Homo sapiens: one gene and its partner. The protein of the gene in region 2 purifies or fractionates together with the protein of the main gene of each other region. This does not show direct contact. Each region holds a gene or a part of one and is shown on either strand. Other genes may lie near its edges. The genes, in order: HNRNPD and FNDC3A.

Evidence for each region.
Region 1: the proteins of FNDC3A (region 2) and HNRNPD purify together in Homo sapiens (affinity purification with mass spectrometry; 2 studies listed by BioGRID and IntAct, with this or other methods). This does not show direct contact.

What each region holds. Positions count from the first base shown.
Region 1 is NC_000004.12:82,363,769-82,374,854, reverse strand, and holds the start of HNRNPD (heterogeneous nuclear ribonucleoprotein D0), read left to right. Parts: upstream 1-863; 5' UTR 864-1,176; coding exon 1,177-1,409; intron 1,410-3,270; coding exon 3,271-3,327; intron 3,328-11,086. UniProt on the Homo sapiens protein: Binds with high affinity to RNA molecules that contain AU-rich elements (AREs) found within the 3'-UTR of many proto-oncogenes and cytokine mRNAs.
Region 2 is NC_000013.11:49,201,451-49,212,536, reverse strand, and holds the end of FNDC3A (fibronectin type-III domain-containing protein 3A), read right to left. Parts: exon of another isoform or gene 10,744-11,086; intron 10,738-10,743; coding exon 10,571-10,737; intron 9,381-10,570; coding exon 9,253-9,380; intron 5,457-9,252; coding exon 5,142-5,456; 3' UTR 2,758-5,141; downstream 1-2,757. UniProt on the Homo sapiens protein: Mediates spermatid-Sertoli adhesion during spermatogenesis.

The DNA of each region.
Region 1 (11,086 bases), on a different chromosome or scaffold from region 2:
TTAAGCGAACCCTTGATTTAACACACTTTCCAATTATTAGTAACGTAAAGGAATCACGGTACGTTTTAGGATCTTTAAACAACAAAAGCAAAGCAAAAACAATGTTTTCCTTAAGATATGCAAGTTACCTGCTTCTTCGACCAAAAACAAAAAAATTCCAGGAGAAAAGCAGGCAAACAAAAATCTTACTTGGAAAGCCAAATCTTAAAAAGAAGCCCTATCGGCCCAGCGGCGATAGACGAAAACCTCAATGTCACCCGGTCCCGGGCGGCGACGGCAGGGAGAGTAGCTGCGGCAATCAGTGCGCGCGCGGTCCGCTGCGGCGCCTGGCGCTCCGCGGGCGTCCGGGTGGACAGCGCCAGGGGCACAGGGCTGACATCTCAGGGCTAATTCCCTCCTCCAGTGCGTAAATCCAGGCTTAAGCCGCCGCAGGGTGTGAGCCTCCCCTCCCCCACCCGAACGCCGCAGCTGCACGGGGCACGACAGCCTTCGCAGAGGTGCAGCCACACCCCGGCCTAACGCTGCTGCTCCCGCCGCTACTGGAGTGGTGGGGAGGGGTGAGTGGACTCCAGGAATCCTCGGAAGGGCGGGGGCGGAGGCAGGGGGCCCCTCTAGCCGCTACTTCGAAACAGCACTCCTTGTTCTCGATGGTCCCCGCGCGACTGTCTTAGCTCACGACACTTCCGGTTCCTTTTAAAGGCCCCCAAGGCTGTGCAACGCGGAGCGTGAGAGGAAGGTATAAAGGGTAGCGAGAGGGCGGGACCGAGGAGGAAAGGGAAAAAAAAAAAACTAGGGGGATAGGGGTGGGGGGACGCGCGAAGGGCGCGCTCTCGCGTCACGTGACCGGGACGCGCCGTTCTTCCGTCGGCCATTTTAGGTGGTCCGCGGCGGCGCCATTAAAGCGAGGAGGAGGCGAGAGCGGCCGCCGCTGGTGCTTATTCTTTTTTAGTGCAGCGGGAGAGAGCGGGAGTGTGCGCCGCGCGAGAGTGGGAGGCGAAGGGGGCAGGCCAGGGAGAGGCGCAGGAGCCTTTGCAGCCACGCGCGCGCCTTCCCTGTCTTGTGTGCTTCGCGAGGTAGAGCGGGCGCGCGGCAGCGGCGGGGATTACTTTGCTGCTAGTTTCGGTTCGCGGCAGCGGCGGGTGTAGTCTCGGCGGCAGCGGCGGAGACACTAGCACTATGTCGGAGGAGCAGTTCGGCGGGGACGGGGCGGCGGCAGCGGCAACGGCGGCGGTAGGCGGCTCGGCGGGCGAGCAGGAGGGAGCCATGGTGGCGGCGACACAGGGGGCAGCGGCGGCGGCGGGAAGCGGAGCCGGGACCGGGGGCGGAACCGCGTCTGGAGGCACCGAAGGGGGCAGCGCCGAGTCGGAGGGGGCGAAGATTGACGCCAGTAAGAACGAGGAGGATGAAGGGTGAGTAAGGGGCATCCCAGGATAGTCAGGCCCAACTAGTCCCCCTCCCCCTCTTTATTCCCCCGCCATTAGGCCTGGTTCCCGCTCTCAGCCCGTTCTCCGGGCCCCCATGCAGCCTCCTTGCACTGGTCTCCCTTTTTCTATGTTGGGTTCCCCGGACCTTCATTTCCTTCTTCCTTTGCCTGCTTATCGCCCCCCTCCCCCATCACACACGTTTCCACCTTTAGCCGTCACCATGCTGCTCCTCGGCCCGCCCTCCTTTCCTCCCTCGCCATGGGTCTCCTCCCACCGACTTAGCCGCCAGGATTTTTTCCCGCCTGTCGTGGGGTACCTTTTTTCTTTCCATGCTGTCCCCTCTTTTTCCCTTTTTCTACAGTCTTGGGCATAAAAACACAGACACAAACAGCTTCTCTGTTTGTATTACTAAGGTTTATTTGGTGCTTCTCCACCATCCTGAAACGATGCGATTGTTTATAAGCACATGTTTTGGGGAACGCGTAGGCTGTCCACCTCTGCCTCTCCCTTGTCGGCCTTAGGCCGACTGTTTTCTTGGGATTTTGAATAAGTTTCGCCTAAGGATTTACTCATTTTCTCCACCATACGCTATCGCACAATGGCATACTCATACAGGCCCTACATTTTGACATGCAGACCAAATTGGGTCTGGTGAAATGCTCCGAGTTTCTTGTTGGTACATTGGTTTTGCTCCGCGGGCTCTGGTTAAGTTCTTAGTCGATCGGGCCTGCACTTGACTGGAGCTGTTCCTATCTCCGGCCTAGCATCTACCCTTCCCCCACCCCACTGAGTTATTCTAACCGCGCACCCTTTTCGCGCCCTCAGCTATTGGGTTCCCCAACTGTTAGTACAGATTGTACCTTACTTTTTATGTGCAACCTAATTTTTTACAACCCCCAGCCCCCTTTTTTTCCCGGTGCCCAGGATCCTATTTTGGTGTCTTGATATCTGTTTCCCGCCCACTAAGGGAGGCCTGTAGTCCTCTTAAGAGAAACAAATCCTGTATTGTGCTATGGGATACTTTTTTTTTCTTTTTGGTGCAAATTTCTTAGTATTAACTTGCTTCCTCCAATTGAAATAACAGTTGTATATACTACCTAAATCTGCATTTAGTGTATTAAAATGCAGCATTTGGGATTGGGAACATAATACGGGAGTTAGCAGGAGGGACTAAATCAGGTTTCTTGGTTGAGTTTTCTTAGCTCCGATTACTGACCGATGATCGTGGGTTCACGCTTCCATTCCTTTTTGTAATGGGGAGGGGTGTGTGTGTGTCTGAATTTTTTTTTAACTGTAAAGAGAAAGGTGTTGGTGGATATAACAAGATGTCGCTTTAATCTAGTATTAGAAAACACGATTTCCTTTACTGAGAAAGAGCCCAGGATTTGGAGGGAAAGTTGGGAGGGGAGAAGCACTTTGGAATATAGGGTTTATTAAGCCCAGCCTAGGCAGATTCTTGTCAGGCTGTTTGATGATAGTGCTGGTTTTGGGGGAGTGGTGGTGGGAAGGGAAGCAAACTTTTAAAAATTAAACAGAACCAACTCGAATTGTATATAGCTTATTTGAGAAAGGAAGATGTTAGATATTTGGAAACTTAAAACCTTTAACATTTTGGTTTTCGTTTGCTGAATTCTGTTCTTTGGACAGAGGCACCAAAATGATTAATTGTATAACTTCCTGTTTGGGGCAGGCTTTCTGTTAGCCCTGATAATTCAAATCGCAAAGCAGCTGACTTTATAGTTACCTACTGTTGAAGTGTAAATGAATTAAAGTTTTTAACCCTAACAGTGTCAAAAACTAAAACTAGAATTTTGATTGGTTGCTGTACCGGTTGTTAATTCCCTAGCCATTCAAACTCCTCCCCACGACACTCTGAAGCAGCGACGGCACAGCGGGAAGAATGGTAAAACTTTTAAATTTTATTTCTGTATTATAAAGGTTTCAGTAGTCATAATATGTAGAGGCTGTGTATTGGTTAGTTGCCCATTGATCCCCAGGAAATTCTAGACCATAGTACATACAGTAGGTTTGTACCTGGGATATATACCTTTTATAGGCATCATGTGTAATCTTTGGGCAAAATTGATGCCGTTACATGGTATTTGGTCTGTGGTAATGCATGTAGTTGCAGTTTGGCAATTTAAGCTAAACAATTAGTAACGATATTTTTATATCGAGCAAGAAAAAATATTACCGTAATCTTCACATTTGATTTATTTTAAGATGAAAAATATTTTTGTTGGAATTTAAGTTTAATGGCTAAATATGAAGACTCCTTGATATAAAATATTGTGTTTAAAATGTCATGCATGTTATACTGAAATATTCTGGAGATGTCTGAAGCAGTTCTTTAAGCAGCACTGTGTATTATGGAAAAATGTTTGTCTTTTACCTAGCATATTTGTAAATAGACCTTTAATAAGAAGTGTGTGTGTGTGTGTGTGTGTGTATATATATACCATTAAAAGGTGGGCTAATGTGGCTTTCCACTACAGCTCTTACCAGATTTTTTATTTTCAGTGTGATTTGGCTGGAATATTAATAACAGTTGGTTGACATGTATTCACAATTGCATGACTTCTCTTTGGAGGCTGGTAGGTTGAGTATTGTTCTTTTTATCCATCCTTTCCCCTCCCCTAAATGTCAGTCTTTCTGCTTTTAGGATTATATTTGAATTTTCAGGGGTTTATACACCACCACTGGAGAGTAGAAGGCCACTAACTTGCAGGCAGTTAACTTATATCTTTACAAGCTACATTCTATTTTAAGAGCCTATTTAGGGTAACATTTAAAGATTTGCTTATCACTGTATTCTCATCCACTGAAATCAGTCCAGCTTTACCTTGGAGAAAAAGCAGATGGGAAACAGGCAAGGGGAAAAGCAAAAAAGAGGAAAAAAAAAAGACTGGGGTCACAGTTTCGATGAATGTTATTCCCTGTATTTGGTGAGTGGTGGGCACTAGCAGCTCAATTTCACTGCTAGCTAATAGTGGCAAATTAAGATTAAACTATAAACTATTTGACATTACTCCATTATGTATTTTGAGTCTCATGTAATTGTTTCCAGTGATTTGAAATGACCATAAACTTAAATTTGAAGGTCAGTGTTTTGACTCTTCGAAGTAATTACACTTGACCTGCTACCTAAAACGATGTAATATTACAACTTTTTTGAATAATCTCAGGAAAAATGGAGAAATGTTTATATTCATAGTTAATAAACATTCTAGATAGTAACCAACTGTCATTTACTGAAAATAAAATTTTACCCAGGTTTATTTTATTTTTGAGACGGAGTTTAGCTTTTGTTGCCCAGGCTGGAGTGCAGTGGTGTGATCTTGGCTCAGCGCAACCTCCACCTCCCAGGTTCAAGCAATTCTCCTGCCTCAGCCTCCAAAGTAGTTGGGATTACAGGCATATTCCACCATGCCTGGCTAATTTTGTATTTTTAGTAGAGACAGGGTTTCTTCATGTTGGTCAGGCTGGTCTCGAACTCCCGACCTCAGGTGATCCGCCTGCCTCGGCCTCCCCAAGTGCTGTAATCACAGGCGTGAGCCACTGCGCCCGGCCTAGCCAGGTTGATTTTAAAATTACACTTAAAAATAATGTTCTCATTTTTAAGGGCTCTAATATTTGACTTTTCTTAACTTTCCAATTATGCAGCCCTATCCTGTTCCAGACGTTAAGGCTTTCTTTTTGAATGAAAAACTTTCAGACTTTTTTCTCTCTCTTTTTTTTTTTTTGGTGTCTGCACTCCCCACCGTATCTGTCCCTTCCTCTTTCTCCCATTTTGAGGGATATTATAAGGGCAACAGTTTTATAGTCTCAATATTGAGGGTAAGACTGGTTAATAGAGTATCCAAATTGAATTTATTAAACACAGTTCTGTGTGCATTTCCTTCTGCAAATCTGAGAATAAAGTGATTACAGTTTCATCCTAAAATACTTTAAAAATCAGTTGGTTTTAGAAATAGGTTTTTTTCCTTTTGCATGTAAGAATGGACAGCTATTTTTAGGAAGGCATGCCTGTTACACCTCTAGTGGATGTTTCTACAGTTTACTATGGGACTTTAGAATAAGTAATTATTTCCATAGTATGCCCTCCTGAGTTCACTTTGATTTACTCTTTCCCACATTAACATCCGTAGTTTTTACTTATAAGCATTGGAATTTCTCATTTTACTTTGTGGTGTGGACCCATTCTGTTCTCTGCAGTGCTGCAGTTCATTTGGGGTAGGTACTTTAAAATTATTTAGTGTCTGGCAAAATATACATGCCATGTAGCAAGCTCTCTGAGGGCAGAGTTTTTAAAGTTTAAAAATCAATGGAAACTACAATGTTGTGTTAACTTTGAGATAGTTTTACAAGGTAGGTACATAGACTTTCCTGCATTGGATTGGGTAGGAAGCAAAAAAGTCCCCCCATTCACTTAGCCAAAGTCCAGCAATGCTTCTTTAATAACAGGACAGTAGATATTGTCCTGTTAATGGTTAGTGTATAATGAGCCCAAGTGTGATTCTTCCCATTTGGGAATTCTGTGAATCCTGCTGTAGGTTGTTGCCTGTCTGATTATAAAAGACTAGGCTCATGTTTTTGCTTTAAATGTTTGAGATTATGGTCTTATACCTTAGTGCTTCTGGGGCAATCTGAACATTGTTTGCTTTGTAAAATAATTTCTTTTAGAGTAGTCTCATGCCAAATTTACTGGCCTTTGATTCAGTACAGTTGGGTTTACTGTATGTAGTAAAGTTGAGACCCTGCGTAGATTGGTCTCAGTGTTAGCATTCTTGGGAGCCTTTGACAAATTTCCCGAGTTAAAAATTCCAGAAATTGATGTCCCCAGATCTTTAGATGAACATTTAAGCGAAGAGTATTAAATACTTCTCACTGTAAATTTTCATCTATTATGAAAGATACTAAAAATAATCTCGTTTTTTAAGTTTGGAATTGGGAGAATGTCATTGAAGTTTTTCAGTGCTTGTTTTTGAGATACACATACTTTGCCTTAAATCTGGGGTTTTTTCCCTTAAGCCATGTGACCCTTTCTACAAACTCAGTGTATGTTTTTAATATTTCCTGGGTACTCTGCTATCGTCCTAATACATAATATTAGGGTAAGGCTGCCCTAATACGAGAACATTTTGAGTATACTATTGAGTATACATTTGAGTATACATATTGAGTATACTATTTATGCCAACGTGAAGGATGTGATTAGTTTTAGCCTTCAAGTCATAATACATACCATGCTTGAAAGCATTTAAAAAGGAATAGAGTAATTTTTTTTCCCATTCCACTTGGAAGCTGTGTACCTCAAGTGTGTGCACATTTACAAATGGGTGAAACATAACTTATGTTAGTCCAAGCTTGATTTGACTTCAGTTCTGCTTCAACGTTTTAGTAGATAGGGCACTGAACTGGATGCTGAAAGCGTGGGATCTCTTTCTGTTGCTTCACTTCCAACAGTGTGGTTTCAGGTAATACGACATGTTTGTTACTTGGTTTGCTGATCTATGTGTTGGAAACAATGCTCACCACAGGAGGATTGACTACATAGCCTGCTTTCATAGCTTGTGTGTATTTATCCAGTGCCCTAATAGTTGATACTGCCAGTGATTTACTCCTGTGGAGTAAAGGTAAGCATGTTTTAGTTTCTGGAGTATTATATTGTACGTTGGAGCTAGGTATTTAAGAATATTTGGGGGTGGGGAGGGAAGACTCCAATTTACTGGTGGTGCTTGGCCAGTAATCAAGGTGACAGTTTAAGTATTGGGTCTTGCACTGTAAACTCCTGCTTATCTAGACTTCAGACTACCACAGAGCCCACACAGCCAGGAAGTCTGTCTCCCCATTTAGTCTTATGAGCAAGATAGATGAAGCCATGAGAAAATATACTCAAAAAGCAACCAACAGACAATGTCATGGAATGAATCTCCTACAGATTTTTCCTTACACTTTTGAAAAGTAACATGATTTTAAAACGTTGGAAAATTCATCAAGGTACAAATCATTTTCTGACTTCAGCATTGATACCTAAATTGATTTCCAGTACACAGTTTTATAGAATTGTGAATATGTAGTAATCTCAGTTAACCAGAACCTTAACCTTCAGGTTAAGGAAAATACCTATTCCTTAACCTCTAGGTAAATGGGAGTTTACCTTACAAAGCTGATTGAGAGCTTATTTAAAACGTAAACATACAAGATGTCATTGCTTCCTTGTAGTGAAGTGAAAAGGAGGTATTGGATTAAGCATTTAAAGTTAATTAAAGTAGTGGCTCGTGCCTGTAATCACTGGCTACTCAGAAGTCTTGAGGTATGAGGATCATTTCATGCCAGGATTTCTAGACCAGCTAGGCAACATAATATGACCCCTGTTTCTTTAAAAAAAAAAAAAAAAAAAAGGCTAGTGTGTTGGGGGGTGTGTTTGTAGTTGTAGTTACATCTACTCAGGAGGCAGAGGCAGGAGAATGTGTTGAGCCCAGGAAGGAGCTCAGGGCTGCAGGAAGCTATGATGGAGCCACTGCATTTTGATAGTGAGACCTGGTCTCTTAAAGTGTTTTATTTTTAGGCCAGGCGTAGTGGCTCACACCTGTAATCTCAGCACTTTGGGAGGCCAAGATGGGTGGATCACCTAAGGTCAGGAATTGGAGACCAGCCTGGCCAACATGGCGAAACCCCAGCTCTACTAAAAATACAAAAATTAGCCAGGTGTGGTTACATGCGCCTGTAGTCACTCAGGAGGCTGAGGCGGGAGAATCACTTGAACCCTGGAGGCGGAGGTTGCAGTGAGACAAGGTTGCACCACTGCATTCCAGCTTGGGCAACAGAGCAAGACTCCGTCTCAAAAAAAGAAAAAAAAAGTTTATTTAAAAAACTGTCATGTTGGCCGGGCGCGGTGGCTTATGCCTGTCATCCCAGCACTTTGGGAGGCTGACGCAAGCGAATCACCTGAGGTCAGGAGTTCGAGACCAACCTGGCCAACATGTTGAAACCCTGTCTCTACTAAAAATACAGAAATTAGCCGGGCATGATGGTGGGCATCTGTAGTCCCATCTACTTGGGAGGCTGAGGCAGGAGAAGAGCTTGAACCCGGGAAGCAGAGGTTGCAGTGAGCCAAGATCGCGCCACCGCACTCCAGCCTGGGCGACAAAGCGAGACTCTGTCCCCCTCCCAAAAAAACTGTCATGTTTCATTTATTAGATGTTTATTTTTTCAACTTCGCTTTTTAGTAGTCATTTAGTTAGGTTCATTCTAAAGTGTGAAGTAATGAGATTTAATACAGAGAAGTCTCTGAAAATGTTTGGTCCATTGTATATTAGTCTTGAATAAATGGAATTCTTTTTCACACTTACCTTGAAAATGTCATCTGTAGAAAGCTGGGGGAGAGGAATACCTATTCTTTAATGATGGGGAAATAATACCAAAATTTATATTTTTATTGACTAAAGTGTTTTTTGGGGAAGATTTGTTATTGGCTAACCTTAATGTCTCATTAGTTTTAAATAGTTAAAAAAAGTGGGCTGGGTGCGGTGGCTCACGCTTGTAATATAGCACTTTGGGAGGCTGAGGTGGGCAGATTGAACCCAGGAGTTCCAGACCAGCCTGGGCAACATGATGAGATCCTGTCTCTACAAAAAAAAAAAAAAAAAAAAAAAATTAGCTGGGCCTCGTGGTGTGCACCCATAGTCTCAGCTACCCAGGAGCTTGAGATGGGAAGATTGCTTGAACTTGGGAGGCAGAGGTTGAAGTGAGCCAGGATCACACCATTGCACCACAGCCTGGCAATAGAGCGAGACTCTGTCTCAAAAAAGTGGTTTTCATGAATTTTATACCAGATCAGATCTAAAAAGGCTGGTTAGTATTTGAACTCGATGAAAGCTTGTCAAGCTCTCTCCCAAGGTAGTTTTCATACAACTTGTAAAATACCCTAACGTGTGATATTATCTAGTTGCATTGTAACCTCCTCCCTTCCCCTTAGGTAACTAGTGACTTAGCTTTAGTTTGTCATTTTAGGATTTTAGAAGAATAATTATGATGGATAAAATACTGGAAAAATTCAGTAAGGATTTAATGGTGTGCTTGAGTAACATTACTTTAAAAGATGACAGTGATTGGTCATTTATGTTTTATACCTGAAATGTATATCAGGTTGACATTCTGTTGTATTTTTTAAACTGTCAGAACTTGTTATAAAGCCATGTATGTAAGATCATAAGTTGTTAGGAAGTGTTTAAAAGTTAAAGGATTGGCTGGGTGTGGTGGCTCATGCCTGTAATCCTAGCACTTTGGGAGGCTGATCGCTATGTCCAGGAGTTCTGTGACTAGCCTGGGTAACAGAGCAAGATCTCGTCTCTAAAAAAGTAAAAATAATACGAAGTTATAGAACATAGAAAAAGAATACTATTCCAAAATTGGGAGTGAGTATAATGGCTAACTTTTTACCTTGAATAAGGTGTTTGACAATAAAGACTTATTAGGGGAGGTATCTTGGAATAAAATAGTTAATATTGACTGGGAATGTTAAAAACCTAGTGACCTAAATAGTCCAGAGAATAAGTTTATTGATGGGGAAAAGCCAGGATTATTAAATCGGAACATTTTCCACCAGCCAGGATTGCTCCATGTATATTTCCTTTTATGTTTTAAATTATTCTTTACTAAAATTACTGGCATAAATGTAGGGTAGACCAAGTCATCAAGGTGATTTTGGAAGCTACATTTAAAGGGTCTTAGTTGAAATACCACCTAATTTTTAGTTTATATATTTTTTTACATGGACTATTTAAAAATTTCTGGGTTATTTCAAGTTGGCAGCATTGAAAATATTAGAATATGTTTATATAAAACTCATTGTGGCCTTTTCCTTTTAATGTTGGAAAGTTTATAAAGCCTATGCAGTTTTAAAAAATTAAGCCATTGAGTAAATAAAAAGTTTGCTTTATTAAATTATGTTTAGATAGTGCTTATAGTGCTTTACCCCTTCAAAATAGTAACTTCTATCAATCATTTAGGATGTGTGTCAGACTATTCTGTGTCCTTTAAGTGTGTTAACTAGTTTTAACCCTCTGCAAATATCTGAGGTATGCTCTTTTTACAGATGGGAAAACAATCTTGGACTTTAATATTTTTTCTTAATGTTACACAATTAGTAAGAGGCAGGGGGCCAGGTGGAGTGGTTCATGTTTGGAATTCCAGCACTTTGGGAGGCTGAGGTGGGCAGCTTGAGCCCAGGAGTTGGAAGACTAGCCTGGGCGACATAGTAAAACCTGATCTCTGCAAAAATATTAGCCGGGTGTGTTGGTGGGTGCCTGTAGTCCGAGCTACTGGTGAGGCTGAGGTGGGAGGACCAACTGAGCCCAGGAGGTCAAGGCTGCAATGAGCTGTCATGGAGCCAGTGCACTCCAGCCTGGGAGACAGAGTGAGACCCTGTCTTAAAAAAAGGCAGCAGTAGGGTTTAAACCCCGGCATTTTGTCTTTATTGCCTCTAAACTTAACTTGCTTTAAAAGATGATAAAATGTCCCACAAAGGAGCCTAAATTCCTGAATGATACTGCATATCACTTGGATAGTTATCTATGCTGAGTTGTATAACTTTATGCTTGTCATTTAATTTTACAATTTGGTGGAAGCCAATGTGAAAGCAAGGAGACTTCTGTTGT
Region 2 (11,086 bases):
AAGACTCCTATTTCCAATCTACAGAAAAAAAAGAGGTGACGTGCAATCATACTGTCAAATCAGTATCATACCCCACTCAAACCTGGACTCATGCTTAGCTGCTTCTGTGATGTTCCTATTTCCGGACTCTCCTTCCCCAGCCCAACATTTTAAACTCTATCACGGTCCTTGGAGTTGTGGCAATTAAGAGATCTACATGGATTTTAAAAGCACTGAGTCATATGGCGTGGCTCTGTACCTTGTGAGGAGATGAAACGGCCAGTGGAGCCCGGCCGGACCCGGGTGGGAAAAAAGGGAAAGAAGGAGGTGATGGCGGAATTTTCAGATGCCGTCATGGAGGAAACCTTGAAAAAGCAGGTGGTTGAGGCCTGGAGCTACGAAGCCATTGTCAGGGACATGGACCCCTTTCTTCACTGCATGATCCCAAACTTCATCCAAAGACGACTTCTTGGAAGGGCTTCAGAAGGAACTTATGAACTTAGATTTCCATGACAAGTATAATGATTTATGTAAGTTCCAGCAGTCTGATGATTTAAAGAAGAGGGCCTCACATCTCTGCTTTAAGGAAAATTCTGTTTGAAGATTTCTGGTCCTGGCTTTCTGGCATTTCTAAAATTTACTGGAACCAACCATCGATGTGTCCTGTGCTAAATATGAATTCACTGATGCCCTGCTGTGCCATGATGATGAGCTAGAAGGGCGCTGGATCGCCTTTATCCTGTACCTGGTTCTTTCCTGGGACAGGAGCCTGGAGGGTATCCTGGACCTGTACAACATTGATGAACACTTTCAACCGAAGCAGATTGTCGTCTCTTACCCCTTTATGGAACAAACTGGTTTTCTTTGAAGTATCTGCAGTGTCCTTTCACCAGGTGTCCAAAGTCCTGTCTGAAGTCACATTTGTCTATAAGTGGCTGGTTTCATGGTCCTTCACTGACTAGGCCTCCCAACTACTTTGAACCCCCTCATATCTTGGAGCCCTCACACCCCACAAGAACATGAAATTGTTTGATTGGATCAACCTTACTTATCTGGACATGGATTACCAAATTCAAACTCAAGAAGAGTTTGAAGAAAGTTCTGAAATTCTCCTAAGAAATTTCTTAAGCCTGAGAAATTTGCAAAGGTCTGTGAGGCCTTGGAGAATGGAGATGTGGAAGAGAGCAGCTGAGGTCCCCCTAAGAAAAGGTTTTTTTTTTTTTATTATCATTTTTTAAATTTTAAATCTCGGCTCACTGCAACCACCGTTTCCTGGGTTCAAGCAATTCTCCCGTCTCAGCCTCCCGAGTAGCTAGGATTACAGGCACCTGGCATCATGCCTAGCTAATTTTTCTATTTTAGTAGAGACAGGGGTTTCACCATATTGACCAGGCTGGTCTTGAACTACTGACCTCAGGTGACCTGTCTACCTCGGCCTTCCAAAGTACTAAGATTATAGGCATGAGCCACCGTGCCTGGCCAACAAAAGATGATTCTATGAGAAAGCTGAGGAGAGTAAGCTTCCTGATATATTGAAGGAGTGCATGAAGTTATTTTGCTCTGAGGCACTATTCTTGCTGCTCTCCAACTTCACAGGCCTGAAGCTTCACTTCTTGGCCCCTTCGGAAGATGAGATGGATGACAAAAAAGAGGAAGCAGCAGCCTCTGCTGCTGATAGAACTGAGGAAGGGACTGGCCATAGCCCTCCTGAGCCAGAGAATAATCAGGCAGCCATCAGCATCAACGGCCAACAGAGCCATGAGCAGACAGACCGAGTCAGAGGAAAATGAAACAAAGAATGAATCAGGTGTTCCCACATGCCAAAGGGAACTGAGGCGTTGGAAGACTGGTCACCACACTTTTAATTCGTGACCATGGCAAGGCTGATTTTGCCCTAGACTTAATTCTCCACTGTGGCTGTGAAGGCTGGGGGCCAGAATATGGTGGTTTTCTTACATTGCCAAAGATGAAGACGAAGAGCTGCTAACAGTGAATCCAGAAAGCAATTCTTTGGCATTGGTCTACAGAGATAGAGACTCTGAAATTTGTCAAGCATATTAACCACTGAAGCCTGGAACAAAAGAAAACCTTCCCAAACACAACAGGTTTCTGGGACTTTTCATTTATCTATTATGAATGACAGCACTGGGCAAAGCTGAACAAAAACATGATCCTTCATCAGTACTGGGAAGTCTGGAACAGCTAAGCCTGGAGTGAAGGAGAGCTACGTGGTAGCTTGCCTGACAGTGTTCTTTAAACTGGTTGTCCTTTAATAGGACTCATGATTGTCCTCAACCTAGACCTTGAGCTTGAAGCTATGTACTTACCTCTTGAATAAAAAAAAAAAGTTGGCTTTATTTTAAACATTGAGTTCTCCTCTTTCCATATTGGCTTCTTCAGTGAATTTTTCAATGATTTTTTTATGGTGGTAAAATATTTATAACATAAAATTTACTAGCTTACCCATTAAAAAAAGAAAAAAAAAAAGGCACTGAGTGTCCATCCCCAGGAGGAAGTTCTTGGGATGGAAATTTTAATGGGGGATGAGTGAGAGAATGTTGGATTTTCTGGTGGAAGGCAGACCCAGCAGTGCCACTACCAGGAAGGTTCTGGGCCTCTGGTGGTGGGCGAAAGAAGGTACTAGAAAATAGGGATGTGGGAAAGGCAAGGAGAGGTTAGGGATTTTCTTCCCACTGGGAAGTTTACCTTAGACTCACTGTATTCTTTATATGTGGAAAGGAAGTAAGATATTTCATGAGTTGCACAAAATCAAGTCACTAGGATAAAACTTCTAATTTTATTCTTTACTGGGCTTTATATAATAAATATACATCCTCTCATGTTGAAGATTTATATACTGTTGGGAAAAATGTTTTAAGCTCATTGGAAGAGGGGAGACCATAACATTTCACTTTCTTAAACAGGTAGCAAATAATGAATATATATGAATACAATAAACGTATCTCAAAAAGAATGATACAACTTTTATTTTCCATGGATTTTACAGATACTTTTGCTACATAGTTTATGTATTTTTATGAGATTTTTTTCATTTGTATGAAGTTCATTCAGCCTTATACAATTTTAAGGTGATATGTTTGGTAGTGTATCTATAATCTTTAAAAAGTTTAGAGTTTTTGGAATGTACAGTATATGAGGTAAAATCAAGATTACATTAAAAATTGTTTTCTCCTCTGCACTAATTTTGCAGTGAGGCTCAAATGGCAAGTATACTATTAAATGACATTTACTATCAAAAATAGGAAGTTCATTTGAATTACTATGAAAAACATAAGCCACTGTAACTTGACACAGTGGCACATTTTACCATTTTAGACATTCAACTATATATAAATCTCTGGGCTATTACACTCAGACTCATTTGTACTGCCAAATGTGGCACTTTAAAGAAGTTTCTAGAAAACAATCGCAATCACTGTTGTTTCTGGGGAAGGTTATCACCCTATACATAAGAGATTAAATTTAAATAAAATGTAAACATACAGTATATTATAGTGACAGGTCATTCTTACCACTTAGAAAGGCCAAGTTTATCCATTTCTTTTTTGAACAAGGGTTAATGTTTTTCTACAGCACAGATCATTTGACATAAAACTGTTACAATACATGCCCATTCTATTATAAAAGAAATTCTTCAGAGATCTTCAAAGCACAAAAAATACGTTCTTTTTTCAAAGACTGACAGAAGTGCTTAATAATCACTAAAATGCCAACCTCAGCAACTAAAAATTAGTGATTCGCTATCCTAAAATTCAAATAATAAATTAAAAAAGCTAGTTACAGGTGTTTTACGGATAACAGATGTGCTAAAACAAGAATTGTAGATAGTTTCATTATAAACTGTATTATTACTTGCAGTCATCGACATCTAGGCAAGATGTACAATGTGATACTTGACAAAATTCAGTCTGATCATCCAATAACTCACAAATGCAAGCTCACAAAACATTAATGAATTATGCAATTGCAAAGTGCTCTAATGCAACATTAACCACATGCAATCAACAATTTGGAACAGTATCCAAACAGACATTATACGTTAAACGTTTAGTTTTCAAGAAAGAAAGCAGCTTGAAGTTTACTGGTGCAAATTAATTTTGTCTTCAGATTTGGTGCCCCAAACAAAAAGGTTAGGTTTGATTATGAATTCTGATGGTGGTGGCAGCAGTTATGGGAGAAGCAGCAGAAACTTATGGGAGTTCTTCAAAATTAGCCTATACCAGACAGAGTGAGTGTATGTATGTAATATATACTTCTACACTTGTTATGTGTATATGTGTACACTTGTTATATGCCATATATGTATGTGTATACCCTTATACACATACATATAGTTCAAAGGTTCACAAAACAGAAGCCAAATAGGTTTGAAATTCAATTTACTTTTATGATTACTTTCTAAAAAGTATTTAAAAGCACTCAATTCTTTTCCATGTTCTCAAGACCTGAAGAGGTACTTTTTGAGTAAACATCAAAATATTTTTAGGCCAAGTAAACTGTCTGTTCTTTAAGTACTTATCTGTGAATTCATGAATATATATTTATAATGAAGAACTCCACATTTATCAAAGAAGCTTTTCTTCATGCATACTCTTTCATCCAGTTTTTGTTTCTAAGCCCCTCCAGTTACTCATCATAATCCCACTTACCAAATAATTAAGACAAATGAGGAGGTAGAAATATAGCACTAGATTGCTTTCACAGCATCAGACTTTAACATTTTATATAGCATGTTAGTGTAAATTCTATTCATTCTGAATTTTTCACTTGGTAATAATCTTTAAAACAAACAGATCAGGTTATCACTGTTACACTCATGCCGATTCGTCAAAATATCCATTCTAAATTGTTGCCTCTTAGAAAGTTTTTCTATAAGAAGGCATTTGTTAAAAAAAGAGAGAGGGAAAGAAAAAAAGAAGACCCACCCTAACAAAAAAAACAAAATTGATATTTTTGTGGCTTGCATTCTAATAAAGTGCCAGCCTCTACCTAACAATATAAGCACTGAAAATGGCAAAAATGATGTGCTATAGTCTCAATGCCAGTGCTAAATGCCACTGTTTTTTATAAAAGCAATACAGAAATAATTTTAGTACATGACAAAATAAAATGTAATAGAGTTAAAAAATAAAGTTATATTTTCACTTGATTACAAAGTACTGAATGATAAAGGCAATCAAAATGGAAAAGAAAGCAAACAGCACAAGGATGACGGCAGCACACTGCTCGTCACTCAGTGCCCGTCGGGTCCTTGTGCTTTCCACAGTGTCTCTGTTGGTGCTGGCTGGTGGTTCAGTCCTCTGAGAGATGAAGAGCACTGTGGTGCTGTAGGGACCTACGAGGTCCTGGTGTCCCAGAGAGTCTTGGCACTGGCGAATGGCACATACACGGAAGCGATATTCACAGTTCAGCTGAAGGCTGGAATACCGGAAGGAAGAGTCGGGACCCTTGTAAATCTGTTAATAAAATATTAGAAGGAAGAATTACGTGTGAAGGCTGGACAGAAAATGTGTTAAAACTGGCTAGTGTTAGAATTGTTTTTCATGTGAAAGCCAGTGAATGCCATTGATTTTATCTTTTAAATGACATGTTAAAAATACCTGTCCATTAAAGTACTTATCTGTTTGTTGCATAGGGGCAAGAGAAATTTCAAAAGCGAGGATCTACCCTTATACGGTTCACAGATGAATTAAGGAGTGCAGATGTGCCCCAGGGCAGCTAGAGAACAAGCAAAATCGGTCCTCAAGCATTTTCTTGCTTTTCTCAAATGTAAGAAGTCATTTTTCAATGCAATCATTCCATCAAAGAAGGGATAGTGTCTACTTTTGCTTCCCCCATTATGTCTTTGTATAACTGATAAATTTCCATATAATTTCAAACATATCTGTACAATGAAATGGAAAATGAATAAGGGGAGCTTTCTATAGGTGCCTATGGCAAATCACTGTATAAACCAGAGAGGGGAGATCACTTAGAATCAGAAAATAGGACCTCCTCTGCCATGCCTCACAAGGGAAATAAAAAGAATGAAATTCCACGGATTTTCAGAGGAATGTGCTAGTAATTAACCCATTTATGCCAGAGGTTGCAAATTTTTTTTTTGTGAAAAATCAGACCTTGGCAATAACCTTGATCAGTGAGATATAAATAACTACCACAAGCTTAGTGTTCCAATAATGGAACACTAGGCATAAATAAGAAGCTATATACTAGAACTGTTCACCCCTGGCATCCAAGGTCTGCTCTACCACTTCACACTCCAGATGTGATTTTAGACCAACTACCTTAGTATAACAGACATACTAGTAGTTAACATGTATGATAATTATGAGGATGAAATGAACTAATGCTTGTTAAAGCACTTAGCGCAGTGCTCAGCATGCAGTCACTGCTCAATCTGTAGGAGCTATCATTTCCAATAATGAGCAACCTCCCACCACTCATTCTGTAATTGAGAAAACCAAGGTTCATAGGGTTAAATGACTTGTCAGTTGAGTTTCTCCAGTTAGTTGGTGGGCTACAAGTCAGAAGAACCAACACATGGGGGCTTTCAAGTACTTTTAGCTGCCTCAATTGTACCTGTGATGTAAATCTAAATTTTTACATATTGCTTTGCTCTCAAAGTAAAGTAAGATCTCTGTCTCATTTTTCTGTCTCCAGAATCTAGCATATAGTAGGTACTTAATAAAAGGACATTAAATTAGTGAATTATTGGCAATAAATAAAAATGTGGATGCTGATAACAATATATAAAGGAACTTACTGAAAGAAGCTTTAAGATAAATCTGAAAGAAAATGGTGACTATACATTAGTTCTAAGGATGCATAATGTTTCAGGGAATAGAATGTAGAAATGATCCATGTTTGGGAGATGGTACAGGTTGGGTATCCCTTATAAGAAATGCTTGGAACCAGAAGCATTTCAATTTTTTTGATTTTGGAATAGTTGCATATTTACTAGTTGAGCATTCCAAACCCAAAAATCTGAAATTGGAAATGCTCCAATGAGCATTTCCTTTGAGTGTCATATCGATCCTCAAAAAGTTTCAGATTTTGGGTGGAACATTTTGAATTTTGGACTTTATTTGGGATGCTTCAACCTGTAAAAGGATTCACTTAAAACAGAATGTTGTATGATAAAGTAGTGTAAAATTGTATACATAACACTGAAGTAAATTGAGTAAAAATTAAAAATATGTATTTGTCTTATGGATATAATAGATGATTTTTGTCTTTATACTTTCCATGTGTCTTCATATACCATTCCATGAGCCTGGCAGTATTAGGTTAAGAAAGAAAAACCTCAACAAATGGCATGAGGGTGATAAGAGATCTGGTACAAAGAGGAAGAATACATTAATTACACTAGTTGGAAATTTAGGTTAATTCAAAAGGGACCACTGTAGGTGTGTGACATTAAAACAGTGTTTATGGAATCCTAATCGTGAGGCTGTGTGAAGGACTGAAGGGAGCTGAGTAGGACAGGGACTCTTGATGTACATGTAAAAAGTGATGAGGCCCTGATGTAGTTTTATGGATTTAGAAACAAATTCTGATTAAGAGTTGATAGGAAAAAAAAATTCATCTAAGAATTTAAAGCTTGGAGACCAAGATGATATTGGTGTCTATGACACTGATGAAGTAAAGATGTTGGAGAGGAGATACTGGGAGGGAAGATGATGGGATCAAGTTTTCAATTTTGTATTTCAGATGTGGGAAGACCTCTAAGCAGGAAGAGACACAGGTAACTGTAAATACAGGACTGAAGAAAACAGATTAACCTGCTCAAGCTAATTTCAGAAGGTTTATACACCCAAGAAAAGTCATTCAAACAAGCCTTAAGGTTATTCATATACTACTCAAATGTGGAATCCCTATTTCCTTTAAACGTGTAATACAATTATATTTTCTTTAATATTAATTTTGCTTCCTCCTTAGAAGGAAACCTACTTATCTGTAAATTACATTTCAAATCTAATTATCCTGTCAATTTGCAGATGGCTTAATAAAGAAAAACAATTGCATGCCAGATTTAATCTGACTCTTTGGATCTTTTGTAATTTCAGTTAAGATATTACATAGAGTGGTTACAATAGCACAATACTGGAATAAAACAAATGAAGGATCTTTTTTTTAGTGGAAGAGGAAAATATAAGACACAATGAAAACAACCCAGCTTAAAAGCCCTCAAAATTAAGGTTACAGGAAAAAGGGAAAATCAGGTGAAATGTATAGGTATTTAATTAGTCTTTGGAGTGGTATAAAAGCTTATTCTTTTTAAAAGTTGTAACAAACATTGGCAACACTCCACTCTATCTCACTGCTATTCTTGCTTTATCAGAAAGCTATCTTTGAAACCTCTTGGCTAGGAAGGTGACAATTCCTCTAGGTTTCCATTATAACTTCATGCCTAATGTCATATTTACAGCACTGCATTATGACTATTATTAATACTATTATTGTAAAAGCCTCCTTATTAGTCTTTCTAGTTCTGCCCTTGTCCTACTGTAGTTTCAACACTATAGTCAAAACAACGTTGTGTCTGATCACGTGAATACCCTGGTCAAAATCCTCCACTGTCTTCTCATTTCACGTGGAGTAAAAGCCACAGTATGGCCTATTATGCCTTACGTCACTCCATACCACCTATAGGCCCCTTAGGATTAACTATCCGACCTTATCAACTCTTCCCTTTGCTCTCTCCATCCAGTCATATTGGCTCCTTTATGTTCATCAGATTTAATAGGCATGTTCCTGCCTCAGCGTATCTTCTTGGAACACTCTTCTCTCCATAGTCATCTCCTCTGGGCCATGCTGAAATGTCAGCTGAGTGCCCCAAATGAAATAACACTCAGTGCCCTCCCCCTCCACTCCCTATTTCTTTTATCCAATTTTGTTTTTTCTCCATTACACTTATATCTGACAATATATTGTCATGTTTACTTGCTTATAGTGTCTTCTTTTCCACCAGAATGTAAGTAAGCTCCATGGAGGCAAGGGACTTTTTGTTCAGTGCTATATCCTGAGTGCCTGGCACAGAATTCAATGAATACTTATCAGATAAATGAATAATCTGTTCAAGTGTAGTTCATACTGAAAAGATTTGGAATCTTGAGATCTCTGGAACATAATATATACTGAATAAATATTTATGAATTAAAAGGTAAAGATGGCCAAATCTTACACTGAAAATACATAAAAATTAAAAAAGGGTAAAAATATGCATCCACACATTAATATCTTGGTACATACCTGTTTGAATTCTGAATCTTTTCCCAACATAACTTGAAGACTGTAAATAACTGGATCACCTTTCATTGGCTGTAAACACTCCCATGTAATTTCACAAATGTGATCATTTACTTTCTCTATTTTGGGGGCTGTAGGAAACAAATATAAATAATATCTGTTCCACTTGATTTTTAATTTGGTACATCATGCAGACACTTGTCTTAATAAAAATCAACAAATATTTAAAATCCACTTATAAACTTGAAATAAGTATCAGTGAATTTTTGAAATTTGCATCCAAAGAGGTTAAAATCAGCACTCTTGTATTCTAAGATATGGGATCTCACTCTGTCACCCAGCCTGGACAACAGTGGTGCGATCATAGCTCAATGCAGCCTCAGCCTCCTGTGCAGCTACACACACAGGCATATGCTGCCATGCCCAGCTGATTCAAAATTTCTTTTGTAGAGAGGCAGGTCTCAGTATGTTGCCCACGTTGGTCTCAATACTCCTGGCCTTAAGTGAGCCTCCCACTTCAGTCTCCCAAAGCACTGGGCTTATAGGTGTGAGCCACTGTGCCCTGCTTATAGTCAGCACTCTTCTTAAAGCTAAGAGACACTAAACTTGATGAGCAAACAGAAAAATGACTCAGTGAAACTCAATATTATTAGAAAGACTAGTCAAGAAGAGTTCTGCTGTTTAACAAATGATAGGTTTAAGTACATGATCTAGGATATGGTTCTAGAAGTCTCTGTGATTAGTCTTCAGAGCAATTAACTTTATAGACTTTTCAGCTAAAAATAGAGTGTAGCCCTTGCCAGAGTCACTTTAAAATAAGAACCCCTCTAAAATTAAAAGATAAATGTATATACAAATGTGTGTAAATATGTGTACATGTGTGTGTAAAACTAATTGAAAAACCCACATTAATGAAGAATTTGTTTTGCTTAACAGATGACCAAGCTTTCCTTCTGAAATCCAAATGAATGTAATATCAATAACTCAAAACGTTTAAACAACCAGAGTTTGTGATTTTTTTCTTTAAGCAAATGACCTCATTAGAAAACCAGCCTTCCTATTCAATTTAGTATTTTTATGCTACATTATTAAAAACATCAGTGACAAAAGCCAGTACTTGTCTGAATATGAGCGTGCCAGATAAAACAGCTTTTATTATTGAGTGGAACTCTCAGTAGAGTTGGGCTTGCCTATACGATTTTGTATAACTGGTGGACATATACTGGATGCTAAATTTTAATATCAGTAAACAAAGCATTTATGAAAATACATTAAAAAGTAATTTATTATAAAGAAAATAAGTTCAGGATGTATAACTTACCTTTCAAGGCAGCTGGGACAGATTTTGGAGTAGTGAAAATATATTCTTGGGAGAGGGGACCTTCCCCAGCTTCATTACAAGCTTGAATACAGAATTTATAGGATGTTGACTCATTAAGTCTTTGTACTTTGTATGTATGACATGGTCCTCTGTATAGGGATACAAACCTAAAATGGAAATAACTATTAGATAAACCTTATACTACCTTATGATACCTTATTAAAGTGTTTTACAAACTAGTATAAAAACACAGTTATGAACATTATTTAGGAGTGATAAGTTACCCCAAAAGTTTGATGCCAGGAACTCTATGTCACTTAAAATAAATCTGTTTTTCATCAGATTAAGAAAAATAGGATATTTGGTAAATTTCCCAATTTGACATGATTTACCAAAAGTCTGTTACTAAATTTCATGTCCGACCATAACTGTTTCTTCTCAGGCTTCCGGTTTAGCTTTGTTTCTGAATACTGTTTTGTTAATGTACATTTTAAAAGATGCTCAGAACATCACAAT